Regions from separate parts of the Homo sapiens genome. Here all the other regions are reported to be linked to region 1. The links are microRNA targets in miRTarBase. Many come from high-throughput screens and were not tested one by one. Region 1 holds a microRNA gene; each other region holds the end of a gene's coding sequence.

What was found. Region 1 holds the annotated microRNA hsa-miR-5011-5p (UAUAUAUACAGCCAUGCACUC, at 1,008-1,028, opposite strand). A microRNA usually pairs through its seed, bases 2 to 8, with sites in the 3' UTR of a target mRNA and lowers its output. Matches are read on the target gene's strand: a 7mer-m8 pairs with bases 2 to 8, a 7mer-A1 pairs with bases 2 to 7 and ends in A, and an 8mer does both.
Region 2: miRTarBase lists PLRG1 as a target of hsa-miR-5011-5p. The part of its 3' UTR that is shown has no 7-base or 8-base seed match.
Region 3: miRTarBase lists WNT5A as a target of hsa-miR-5011-5p. Seed matches in the 3' UTR shown: 7mer-A1 at 1,578-1,584, 8mer at 1,579-1,586, 8mer at 1,581-1,588, 8mer at 1,583-1,590, 8mer at 1,585-1,592, 7mer-A1 at 1,594-1,600 and 2 more.
Region 4: the mRNA of BRCC3 is a reported target of hsa-miR-5011-5p. Seed matches in the 3' UTR shown: 7mer-A1 at 1,945-1,951.

What each region holds. Positions count from the first base shown.
Region 1 is chr18:67,079,386-67,082,634 of GRCh38, reverse strand. MIR5011 (microRNA 5011) reads right to left here and starts at 1,051; the gene lies at 949-1,051.
Region 2 is chr4:154,534,138-154,537,386 of GRCh38, forward strand. It overlaps PLRG1 (pleiotropic regulator 1), which reads right to left. Exons shown (of 15, transcript NM_002669.4): 14 at 3,149-3,249; 15 at 868-2,607. The coding sequence ends at 2,548. Among named protein-coding and RNA genes, the nearest start is that of PLRG1, 15 kb to the right of the region's middle.
Region 3 is chr3:55,466,994-55,470,242 of GRCh38, reverse strand. WNT5A (Wnt family member 5A) reads left to right here. Exons shown (of 5, transcript NM_003392.7): 5 at 1-3,249. The coding sequence ends at 151. Among named protein-coding and RNA genes, the nearest start is that of WNT5A, 19 kb to the left of the region's middle.
Region 4 is chrX:155,119,871-155,122,870 of GRCh38, forward strand. BRCC3 (BRCA1/BRCA2-containing complex subunit 3) reads left to right here. Exons shown (of 11, transcript NM_001018055.3): 10 at 129-298; 11 at 1,353-3,000. The coding sequence ends at 280. Among named protein-coding and RNA genes, the nearest start is that of BRCC3, 50 kb to the left of the region's middle.

The DNA of each region.
Region 1 (3,249 bases):
AGCTTAATGCCCTCTAGGTTTATCCATATGTATTTCATTGTAGTGTTAGTAGCAATAAAGTATAGAAACGACCTAATTGCTCATTGAATGGTGACTGATAGTGTTACATATACAGCCATGCACTGTGTATTGCATCAGTCAACAAAAAACCACATATATAAATGTGGTCCAATAAGATTACGATACTGTGTTTTTAGTGTAATTTTTCTTTGTTTTGGTATGTTTAGATGTACGGATGCTATTGTGTTACAATTGCCTATAGCATTCAGTATAATAATAAGCTATACAGAGTTGTAGCCTAGGAGATACAGTCTATGTCATATTGTCTAAGTGTGTAGTACGTTACACTGCTGTGGGACAGGCAAGGCCCCAAACTGGGGCTTAGCCAGGGAGGATTTCTTGCTTAACCCCGGAAAAAATTCAAGGATGAGCTAGGAGTCTTAGCAATCGTTTATTGAATGGTACTGCTCCTTGCAGAGCAGGGCTAAATCATAGGCAGTGCAATCAGAGTCAGCAACATATGGTCTCTTGGCAACGGTATTTATACTCAGCGAGACCCACATTCAATTGCATGCAAATTGAGGGGTGAGCCAATGCAAATTGAGGGGCAGGTTGTTTAGAACTTTCTAAGGCAGGTCAAATGCATGCAAATTGAGGGGTGAGCCAATGCAAATTGAGGGGCAGGTTGTTTAGAACTTTCTAAGGCAGGGGCAGTAACTTTTAGGTTGTTGCCATGGAAAGAGGTGGTAACTTCTGGGTTGTGTTGCCAGGCTGCTCATATTGCTCATTAGCATAAGACACTACCACCAGCACCATGACAATTAAATTGCAATGAGTAGTTAGAGATTGCTTTTGTTGACATCTGCCACTTCCTATCAGTTTCTTCACTTCATGCTCTCTGGCCAGATCCTGTTTTGGTTAGCAGGGTTGTGACCAAAAAAAAGTCCTGCTGAAAGATGAATGGATAGTGTTATATATACAGCCATGCACTGTGTACCCAAACTACAGAGTGCATGGCTGTATATATAACAGCATCCACTCAATACCATCTAGGTTTGGATAAGGACACTCCATGATGTTCAAACAATGATAAAATTGCCTTAAGGTACATTTCCCTGTTAAGCAATGCATGACTGTGTGTGTGTATATATGTATATGACCATGAAATATTATTCAGCCTTAAAATAGAAGGGGATTCTGCCATATGAGGCAACATGAAAGAAATAAGTTCTATTGTTGGGGGTGAATAGCCATGAGAGTGGAGAAGGCCATCAGTTAATCCATGGTTTGTGGCATTGGCCAAGCATGACAAGCAGTGAAACCATATTCAAATATGGAATCAACTTTTCTGACGATGACAACAAACAACTGTTGGCTTTACTATACAAGTCAGAGGCAATTGTAAGGCTCTTTGTTGTTTAATGCCCCACAGGTAAAACTTTTCTGTCCAGGGAATATTCTAGAGCAATACTGTGCAAGAGACCATTGTGTGATAACACGTGTTCTACCCTTGCATAGTCCAATATAGTAGCCTGTAGCCACATGTGCCTTTGAGTATTTCAAATACAGCTAACACAATGGAGGGACTGACTTTTTAATTATTTTAATGTTTAGTTAATTAAACATTAAAATTAACTTTAAATAGCCAAGTGTAGCTCCAAGAAACATCTGGAGCTACCAGGAACTGGAAGAGATAAGAAAGAATTGTCTCCTAGAATCCTGGATTAAATGCAATCCTGCCGACACCCGAGTTTGAACTGGCTTCTAGAACTGGGGGAGAATACATTTCTGTTCTTTTAGCCATTTGTTTTATGCTAATCTGTTATGGCAGCCTGAGGAAACTAAAACAGATGGCTTCGGGGAGAAATTTGAAACAGAAGCAAGAAGTAAAAACAGTAAGAAACAAACAAGTATGTATTCATCACAGAGGTACAGAAATTAACCATCAAATATCCCAGGCCCTAGGGGAGGAAGTGCCACGGTGGCAGCAGCGCTATCTCATCAGACTGTTCCTGTGGGGGGATTTTACTGCCATTCTGGAACCTGGTTTCCATGGGGCTGCCCTGTTCTGAGCCTGTTTCTTTAGCCTTCCAATAATTATATGATTTATCCAATATAATCTATTACCTGGTTTAGGTCAATTGGAATGGATTTCAGTCATCTACAACCAAGAACACTGACAGGTATACTAACACCTGTCAGATAGTATTGTGAATTGTGGGGAAAGTGTTCCTAAACATGACAAAACACAAGAAAGCATTAAAAAATGGTGACAGATATGAGTATTTATGAGTTAGTTAATAAACATATATGACAATTTATATGGAAAACAAAGTATGTGATGCATGATGGATTAGGAAAACATACAATATATGTAACGAAATGATATACAATGTCAATATTTATTTTTAAGAAGCAATACTAAATTACAAAATAAAATATATACAATTCTATAGGAATAGAATGCAAATTACCAATACATACATGAAAATTAGAAAACTTTTGCAATTAGAAAAATATAAATCAAAACAATAGTGTTATACTACTTTTTTCTGAAATTAAATTGCAAAATTAATATATCCAAAGATACTCAACATGATCCATATTAGACATGGATGTGTGAAGAAGGCACTCCAATCTAGGTTTTTAAGGATATAAATTTGTAAAGCCGTGTCTCAAGAATGTGTGACAATAATTCATGAGTGGCAATTTAGTATACGTTAAGCTTTGATCCAGGTAATTTAATTAAGATCTATCTACAAAGATAAACACACTTGCACACAAGTTTCTAAGGGTCAGATGGCTTACTGTACAATTTTCAGGATGTTATTGTATCATTGGTCACATCTTAATTTCTTAATTGTCCATGCCCATGGTTTTATCAGAGAAAATGAGCTAAGAACCCCAGAGACAATGGAGAGTTTGCAATGTAGTTTTTCTTTAATTTTTCATTTTAAGTTCAAGACGTCCGAAGGTGTATCTACTGGCTAGAAAAAATTGATATGTTTCCAATTACATTTCTATACATACATGGATGTGTTTGTGTGTATAGCTTTTTTGTCACAAAACCTGAGGACATACAGATAATAAATGCCTGAGAAGTATGTTGCTCTTCTTAAAATAAAACACATGATGAGTTTCCCTTTTGTTTGAGGAAAGCAGAACAGTGCTTTGCTTCGCATTGAGAATTTATGATTGCCATAAGAAAGCAGTGGTGAGCAGATAAAAGCTGTCACAAAAGAAATTTAA
Region 2 (3,249 bases), not on the chromosome of region 1:
ACATTTTCATTATTTTTTTTTTTTGCAATTGGTTGAAAAAATGTAAAGTGAGGAAATAGAAATAAGTTTATCAAAAACTCTAAGAGTTTGGCTGTAAGAGTAGAGAAATGGGTGTATTCCTAGAGGGAAACAATAGGTTTAGTGTTTTTTTTTTCTAAGAAGCAGTATTGCAACCTATTTGTTGATGACACTCATTTAGGGCAGAGGGAAGAAATTCATGGTACAGGAGAGAAAGAGTTTAATCATGGGAGCAAGGTCCTTGAGTGGGCAAGAGTGTATGGCAACAACTGCACAGAGGGAATTGTTGTGAGGCAGATTGCTCATCCTCTGTAACAGCAGGCAGAAGGCATTAACTATGGAAATGTGTATTTGGTCATTATTGATGGCCCACTTGAGATATGTGGTTATAGACCAAGAATGAGTCCAGTCAGTGGAGCTGTTTTTCTTTGGTAACATTTTATAGCTTGACTACACTCAAGCTGTACGGAATGGGCAGTGGAAAAGATTTGAGCTTAACCCTGGTTGGATGTCTGTCAGGTAAGTAAAAGGGCACATGCATGAAATTCTGCATCTTTCATAGGGTTCACAAACACATTATGGTATATGAATTAATGCAACAGAGGATTCAAGAACACTGTAATACAGGGCAGCATGGAGCAGGGAAAGAGATTTTTTTTTAATGCTTTTCAGAATTTGATACGTATACCTAACTTGAACACAATAGTTGAAGCTTTGCCAGACAGGTCGGTAGGGGCTTTCTCATCTCCTTGTACTAGTAATTTCTTCTTGGCCTTTAGAGATGGAACAGCATCCACCTCTGATTTTTCTTGTTAGAAGGCATATCAGAATCTCTCAGGAATGCAAGTGTAGTGTTCTTTTTTCTTTATTTAAGTTTACGAAATACATGCTTATAGAAAATTAAAACATTATAGAAATATGTAAAGCCACCCATGAAAGTTCTTCCATAATTCTGCTTCCTAACAAAGCCACTGTTAGTAATGTGGTGTTACTTATATTTTAGAGCATCAAGTTGTCCACAAAAATGCTTGCACAACTTTTTTTTTTACCCAAGTTTAGAAATCTTGCCCTAATAATCCAGACATTCCTCACTCTCTTAACGAATACTTAGAAACAAATTGCATAAAGGTACCATCTATTAAACCAGTCCCTTACTGACAGGGCATTTGGGCTAGTTTTAAGTATTAAAGAACAAAGGTGCAATGACTTTGCTTGTGTACACTTGTCAGATCATTCCCATTAGGCAGTTTCCTAGGAATGAACTTAGTAGGCCAAAAGGTTCAAAGTTTCAATAAATCCCAGAAAACTACATTCCTAAAGGCTGTGACAATTATACTCCCACCTATGGCATACAAGATGGGTAATGTAATTGGAAGTGCTTGTTCAAAATCATGGTGCAATTTTTTAATTTGGAAAATTTAAAAAATTGACTGTTCTTATAACTGTGTTTTCTAATTATAGAAGGTGAAGTCTGACAAATCTTGATTAATGGGGAATCAGGATCCCAGGGCAGGATTTATAAAACTTGTATTTACCAAAAAGAGGCATCAGTATTAGAAACTTTAAAACTTCTCTTTAAAATCTCCGCAAGATTGCAGCCCTTGCTACAGCTTTAAATAGCTGCACTGGTATCTCCAGTTATTTTCCCCAAGTTTCAATACCAGTATTGGTATCCTACTAGTTGAGGAATAAAATCCATACTTATATGAGCTTTCCCCAGAACAAGCCAGCTTTAGTCCCATTATTCGACAGTAGCAGAACATTCTTTGTCCCAGAACACACCGCACACTTTCTTGTGCCTGGTTTCATCACTTTATGCCTCATCTCTTTTCCTTCTTTGTCTTCCTTCACTTCAAGGTAATCTCCAATGCCACTTACTCTATGAAGTCTTCCACAATCCTTCCTGAGAAAAATAAATGGTCTTATCCCTTCTGTTCCCCCAGCATTTCACCTGCACCTCTGTTACAGAATTTCTATACTAAGCTACCAAACTGGAAGTCTTAGAGGATAGACACATCTTACTTGTCTATTTCCTGAACAGTATCTAGTGCAGAACTTTGTAGAACATACACTCAAAAACTGTTTTTGGAATAAACATACATAAATTAAGACTTCAAATCTTTTAATCTCAAATTATTAGTCACAGATGTTATTTTTTAAAGGACTAAAAAAAAACTACTGCTCCTTCAAATGTCCTAATTATCGGTTTCATACATTTTTTTTAAAAAAGGGGGTTTTCTAATAAGACTGTCAAAATATTACATCTAGAATAGTTATGTTCAATAAACCTGCATTTACTTGATATCTGCATCTTCCTAGTATCACAAATTGTTTTAGAAATAAAAACACAGGGGTAGGGGACAGGGGACAGTTTATTGTAAAATATGAAGCAGCAATGATTGAAGCAAGTGAATTTCTCCTTTATATTCCCAGCCAGAGCACAAAATGACTGGATATCCTCATGAACGCCAAGCTTTTTTTTTTTTAATTAAAAAGAAAAAAAAAGAGAGAGAAAAAATTCCACATTCATTAAAATCTCTTTCTCTTGATAATTTCTGGTTTCCAGCTGACTGGATGAGTTTCTTCTGTCTAAAAATAGAAAAGTGAGTTAAAATAAAGTATTATTAGTTTGCTTCATGTCTAATAGGCTTCCTTTCTAACAAAAATAAGGTATCTAACATTATTCATTGGCTTTATACACTTAGTTCTTTGACAGTTTTAGGAAGAGTTGATAAACTTCTGGCATTATCCAAGTCTAATAACAGATGGATGGATTCATTATGTTTAGTTTGTAGTTTTCCATCTAAAATAACATTTCTACTTGGATATTCTACTAACACCAAAGCTTATGATTCTCGAATTAATTTACATAGCAATCTATTTATTTGCTGTTATTCTTGGTGCAACATTTCCCAGCAACTATAACAAAGGAAGTTGGGATAAAATTAAAGCCATCCATGGATTCACTGGCATCAGTGAAACAATATAGAAATATATAAATGGACACTATTCAAGAAGACAGATATCTTAAATACTATAAAGATTATTTTTCCTTCTGATAATTAAATGAGAATATGCTGCCAAATTGGTATAGCTGTTTTACTTAACGAATGTGAAACACAGAACTTACGGCTGTGTCATCCTCTCTGTATACTTTAATGGTTTTATCAGCTTCAGCTGTTAGTAATCGACTTTCAGACTGATCAAAAGCACAAGCAAATATTCCTGATT
Region 3 (3,249 bases), not on the chromosome of region 1:
CATGGATGGCTGCGAGCTCATGTGCTGCGGCCGTGGCTACGACCAGTTCAAGACCGTGCAGACGGAGCGCTGCCACTGCAAGTTCCACTGGTGCTGCTACGTCAAGTGCAAGAAGTGCACGGAGATCGTGGACCAGTTTGTGTGCAAGTAGTGGGTGCCACCCAGCACTCAGCCCCGCTCCCAGGACCCGCTTATTTATAGAAAGTACAGTGATTCTGGTTTTTGGTTTTTAGAAATATTTTTTATTTTTCCCCAAGAATTGCAACCGGAACCATTTTTTTTCCTGTTACCATCTAAGAACTCTGTGGTTTATTATTAATATTATAATTATTATTTGGCAATAATGGGGGTGGGAACCAAGAAAAATATTTATTTTGTGGATCTTTGAAAAGGTAATACAAGACTTCTTTTGATAGTATAGAATGAAGGGGAAATAACACATACCCTAACTTAGCTGTGTGGACATGGTACACATCCAGAAGGTAAAGAAATACATTTTCTTTTTCTCAAATATGCCATCATATGGGATGGGTAGGTTCCAGTTGAAAGAGGGTGGTAGAAATCTATTCACAATTCAGCTTCTATGACCAAAATGAGTTGTAAATTCTCTGGTGCAAGATAAAAGGTCTTGGGAAAACAAAACAAAACAAAACAAACCTCCCTTCCCCAGCAGGGCTGCTAGCTTGCTTTCTGCATTTTCAAAATGATAATTTACAATGGAAGGACAAGAATGTCATATTCTCAAGGAAAAAAGGTATATCACATGTCTCATTCTCCTCAAATATTCCATTTGCAGACAGACCGTCATATTCTAATAGCTCATGAAATTTGGGCAGCAGGGAGGAAAGTCCCCAGAAATTAAAAAATTTAAAACTCTTATGTCAAGATGTTGATTTGAAGCTGTTATAAGAATTAGGATTCCAGATTGTAAAAAGATCCCCAAATGATTCTGGACACTAGATTTTTTTGTTTGGGGAGGTTGGCTTGAACATAAATGAAAATATCCTGTTATTTTCTTAGGGATACTTGGTTAGTAAATTATAATAGTAAAAATAATACATGAATCCCATTCACAGGTTCTCAGCCCAAGCAACAAGGTAATTGCGTGCCATTCAGCACTGCACCAGAGCAGACAACCTATTTGAGGAAAAACAGTGAAATCCACCTTCCTCTTCACACTGAGCCCTCTCTGATTCCTCCGTGTTGTGATGTGATGCTGGCCACGTTTCCAAACGGCAGCTCCACTGGGTCCCCTTTGGTTGTAGGACAGGAAATGAAACATTAGGAGCTCTGCTTGGAAAACAGTTCACTACTTAGGGATTTTTGTTTCCTAAAACTTTTATTTTGAGGAGCAGTAGTTTTCTATGTTTTAATGACAGAACTTGGCTAATGGAATTCACAGAGGTGTTGCAGCGTATCACTGTTATGATCCTGTGTTTAGATTATCCACTCATGCTTCTCCTATTGTACTGCAGGTGTACCTTAAAACTGTTCCCAGTGTACTTGAACAGTTGCATTTATAAGGGGGGAAATGTGGTTTAATGGTGCCTGATATCTCAAAGTCTTTTGTACATAACATATATATATATATACATATATATAAATATAAATATAAATATATCTCATTGCAGCCAGTGATTTAGATTTACAGTTTACTCTGGGGTTATTTCTCTGTCTAGAGCATTGTTGTCCTTCACTGCAGTCCAGTTGGGATTATTCCAAAAGTTTTTTGAGTCTTGAGCTTGGGCTGTGGCCCTGCTGTGATCATACCTTGAGCACGACGAAGCAACCTTGTTTCTGAGGAAGCTTGAGTTCTGACTCACTGAAATGCGTGTTGGGTTGAAGATATCTTTTTTCTTTTCTGCCTCACCCCTTTGTCTCCAACCTCCATTTCTGTTCACTTTGTGGAGAGGGCATTACTTGTTCGTTATAGACATGGACGTTAAGAGATATTCAAAACTCAGAAGCATCAGCAATGTTTCTCTTTTCTTAGTTCATTCTGCAGAATGGAAACCCATGCCTATTAGAAATGACAGTACTTATTAATTGAGTCCCTAAGGAATATTCAGCCCACTACATAGATAGCTTTTTTTTTTTTTTTTTTAATAAGGACACCTCTTTCCAAACAGTGCCATCAAATATGTTCTTATCTCAGACTTACGTTGTTTTAAAAGTTTGGAAAGATACACATCTTTCATACCCCCCTTAGGCAGGTTGGCTTTCATATCACCTCAGCCAACTGTGGCTCTTAATTTATTGCATAATGATATTCACATCCCCTCAGTTGCAGTGAATTGTGAGCAAAAGATCTTGAAAGCAAAAAGCACTAATTAGTTTAAAATGTCACTTTTTTGGTTTTTATTATACAAAAACCATGAAGTACTTTTTTTATTTGCTAAATCAGATTGTTCCTTTTTAGTGACTCATGTTTATGAAGAGAGTTGAGTTTAACAATCCTAGCTTTTAAAAGAAACTATTTAATGTAAAATATTCTACATGTCATTCAGATATTATGTATATCTTCTAGCCTTTATTCTGTACTTTTAATGTACATATTTCTGTCTTGCGTGATTTGTATATTTCACTGGTTTAAAAAACAAACATCGAAAGGCTTATGCCAAATGGAAGATAGAATATAAAATAAAACGTTACTTGTATATTGGTAAGTGGTTTCAATTGTCCTTCAGATAATTCATGTGGAGATTTTTGGAGAAACCATGACGGATAGTTTAGGATGACTACATGTCAAAGTAATAAAAGAGTGGTGAATTTTACCAAAACCAAGCTATTTGGAAGCTTCAAAAGGTTTCTATATGTAATGGAACAAAAGGGGAATTCTCTTTTCCTATATATGTTCCTTACAAAAAAAAAAAAAAAAGAAATCAAGCAGATGGCTTAAAGCTGGTTATAGGATTGCTCACATTCTTTTAGCATTATGCATGTAACTTAATTGTTTTAGAGCGTGTTGCTGTTGTAACATCCCAGAGAAGAATGAAAAGGCACATGCTTTTATCCGTGACCAGATTTTTAGTCCAAAAAAATGTATTTTTTTGTGTGTTTACCACTGCAACTATTGCACCTCTCTATTTGAATTTACTGTGGACCATGTGTGGTGTCTCTATGCCCTTTGAAAGCAGTTTTTATAAAAAGAAAGCCCGGGTCTGCAGAGAATGAAAACTGGTTGGAAACTAAAGGTTCATTGTGTTAAGTGCAATTAATACAAGTTATTGTGCTTTTCAAAAATGTACA
Region 4 (3,000 bases), not on the chromosome of region 1:
TTTCTACTTCCTTCTCCAACCCCTTCTTTCTGTGCTCATGGTTGGGGGTCTGTTGGTGATAGAGTGGAAACATGCTAGTGGATGGTGCTTTTCCACAATTATTCTCATCTTTATTTTTCCTATTGAAGTGTTTACCAAGAATCTGTGCAGTCAGATGTCGGCAGTCAGCGGGCCTCTCCTACAGTGGTTGGAGGACAGACTGGAGCAAAACCAACAGCATTTGCAGGAATTACAACAAGAAAAGGAAGAGCTTATGCAAGAACTTTCTTCTCTAGAATAAATCAGGAGACAAAATGGGGTAAAAAACTTCTTTTTCAATTTGTGTACTAAACACAGTCTGAAAATGCACACAGCTCACATGCAGGCAGACAATAGAGTAGTTATTTTTCACATGCAATCAGCACAGGATGTCTTCCTGACAGTTTAATTAGAGTTCACTGAACCCTCCTACCTATAACTGACCAATAAGGAGCTTATGCAAGATGATTTAAGTAGAATATGAAAGTTATTTTTAAAAAGGCTATGAGTGGTACAATGGCAAGGAATATCTTAGAATAAAATGTCTGGGGGGTATATTTTAAACATTTATATTTCCCTTTCTTTTAACTTGGAAGTCTTTATTTTCATTTTCAAATACATTCACTCACTAGAATATTTTATGTTTCAATTTTGTAGGTATGATGCTTATGTTGGACAAGCAAATAATAAATCTAGTGTGAGTGGAAGGAAGTACCCCACCTCTATGCCCTCACTGAGAGGGCAGTGTCTTCCTTCTTGATTTCTAAAATATATGTTCTGAGATACCTATCAAACGTTGAATCTCTGAGGGTGCCCTTTTTAGCCCAACATGAGTTCTAGCATATTTGACTCTGAAGTAAACTCCTATTGAGCAGATCCTATCTGCCTAGGAGTTTCCATTATAGTAAAATGTGTTTCTCCAGAAACATTTAGGATTGAGGATATAATAAAAATCATGCTTTAAAAAGTTTGGTTGCATTACTCTTATCATGTAAAAGCACAAATGATAAATGTGTCTGCAGAAAAGACATACTTTTCTGTGTGCTTGTTGCATACTGGAAACAAAGTATGCTTGTTGGATACTAGAAGTTAAGTGATAAAGGCTGTTTTTGGTTTTTGTTTCTCCCTCTCATTTTTCACATTTCAAAGTGTTGTCCAGAACCACCTGCATCAGAATCACTTGAAGGTCATACTCTATCTCTGGGGATAAAATCTGCATGAACTACTTAGCTGATTTGAAAACCACTAGCCTTGAGCATATGGAATGTATATACTATATTGTCCCTAATTTCCCACAGCCACTGTTCTTCTCTATTCTTTTTCTTTCCCTATAGGAAAGATGAAAATATCCAGTGTAAAGTTACTTAAGCTAAATCAATTTCAAAGAAGAAAAACTTGGAGGACTCATTTTACCTGACTTCAAGACTTACTATAAAGCTATAGTAATCAAGATAGATGGTATTGGCAGAGGAACAGACACATACGTCAATGGAACAGATGAGAGAACCCAGAAATAAACCCATATAAATATGCTCAGCTGATTTTGAAAAAGTGAAAAAGCAATTCAATGGAGGAAGAATAGCCTTTCTGACAAATTATGCTAGAGCAATTAGACACCCATGGCGAGGAGAAAAAAGAACCTCTACTTAAACCTCACATCTTATATAAAATTTAACTCAAAATGTATAACGGACTTAAATGTGATACATAAAACTAGATAACTTTGAAAAAAGCCACAGGAGAAAAATCTTCAGGATCTTGGGCTAGGTGACAAGTTCTTGGACTTTGCCCCGAAAGCACATCCATAAAAGACAAAATCTGATATATTGGACTTCTTCAAAATTTAAAAACTTGTGATTTAAGAAGAGGAAAAGATAAGCTACAGATTGAGATGAATTTGCAAACCATATATCTGATCAATTTGGAATATATAAAGTGTACTAAAAACTCAACTGAAGTCAGGCATGGTAGCTCATGCTTGTAATCTCACCACTTTGGGAGGCCAAGATGGGAGGAGTGCTTGAGGTTAGGCGTTCCAGACCAGCCTGGGCAACATAGTGAGACTCTTGTCTCTACAAAAAGTTTTTTTAAAAAATTAACTGGGCACCATGACACACACCAGTAGTCCCAGCTACTAGGGAGGCAGGAGGATCACTTGAGCCCAGGAGTTTGAGGCTGCGGTGAGCTGTGATCACACCACCACACTCCAACCTGTGTAACAGAGTGAGGCCTCATCTCAAAAAAAAAAAAAGGCCACAAAACTCAACAATAAAAACAAACAGTCCAATTAGAAAATGGGCAAAAGACATGAATAGATGTTTCACTGAAGAGGATCTATAGATGGCAAGTAAGCATATGAAAAGCTGTTAAACTCCATAAGTCATCAGGGAATGCAAATTGAAACCACAGCGAGGCTATGACTTACTTATCTCAATGGCTAAAGAAAAAATAGTGAAAATACCAAATACTGATGAGGATACAAACTGGATATTTTATACATTGCTGACAGGAATGTAAAATGGTACAGCCACTCTGGGAAAGAGTTTATGAATTTCTTATCAAGTTAAACATAATTTTTTAATCAAGTTAAACATAAGACCCAGCAGTTGTGCTCCTGGACATTCATTCCAGAGAAATGAAAACCTATATTGTACTTGTACTCAAATATTCATAGGAGCTTTATTTGTAATAGCCCCAAACTGGAAACAACCCAGATGTCCTACAACAGGTACATGGTTAAACAAACCATCCATAACTTGGAATACTGCTCTGGAATGAAAAGGAACTAACTGTTGATACAAGAACTTGGTTGTACCTCAGGGGTATTATGGTGAACAAAAAAAAAACCAGTCTCAAATGGTCACATACTGTATGATCGCATTTATATAACATTCTTGAGGTGACAAAATTATTGAAATGAAGAACAGATTAATGGTTGCCAGGGATAGGGACTGGAGGGGGTGTGGGGTATGTATGACTATA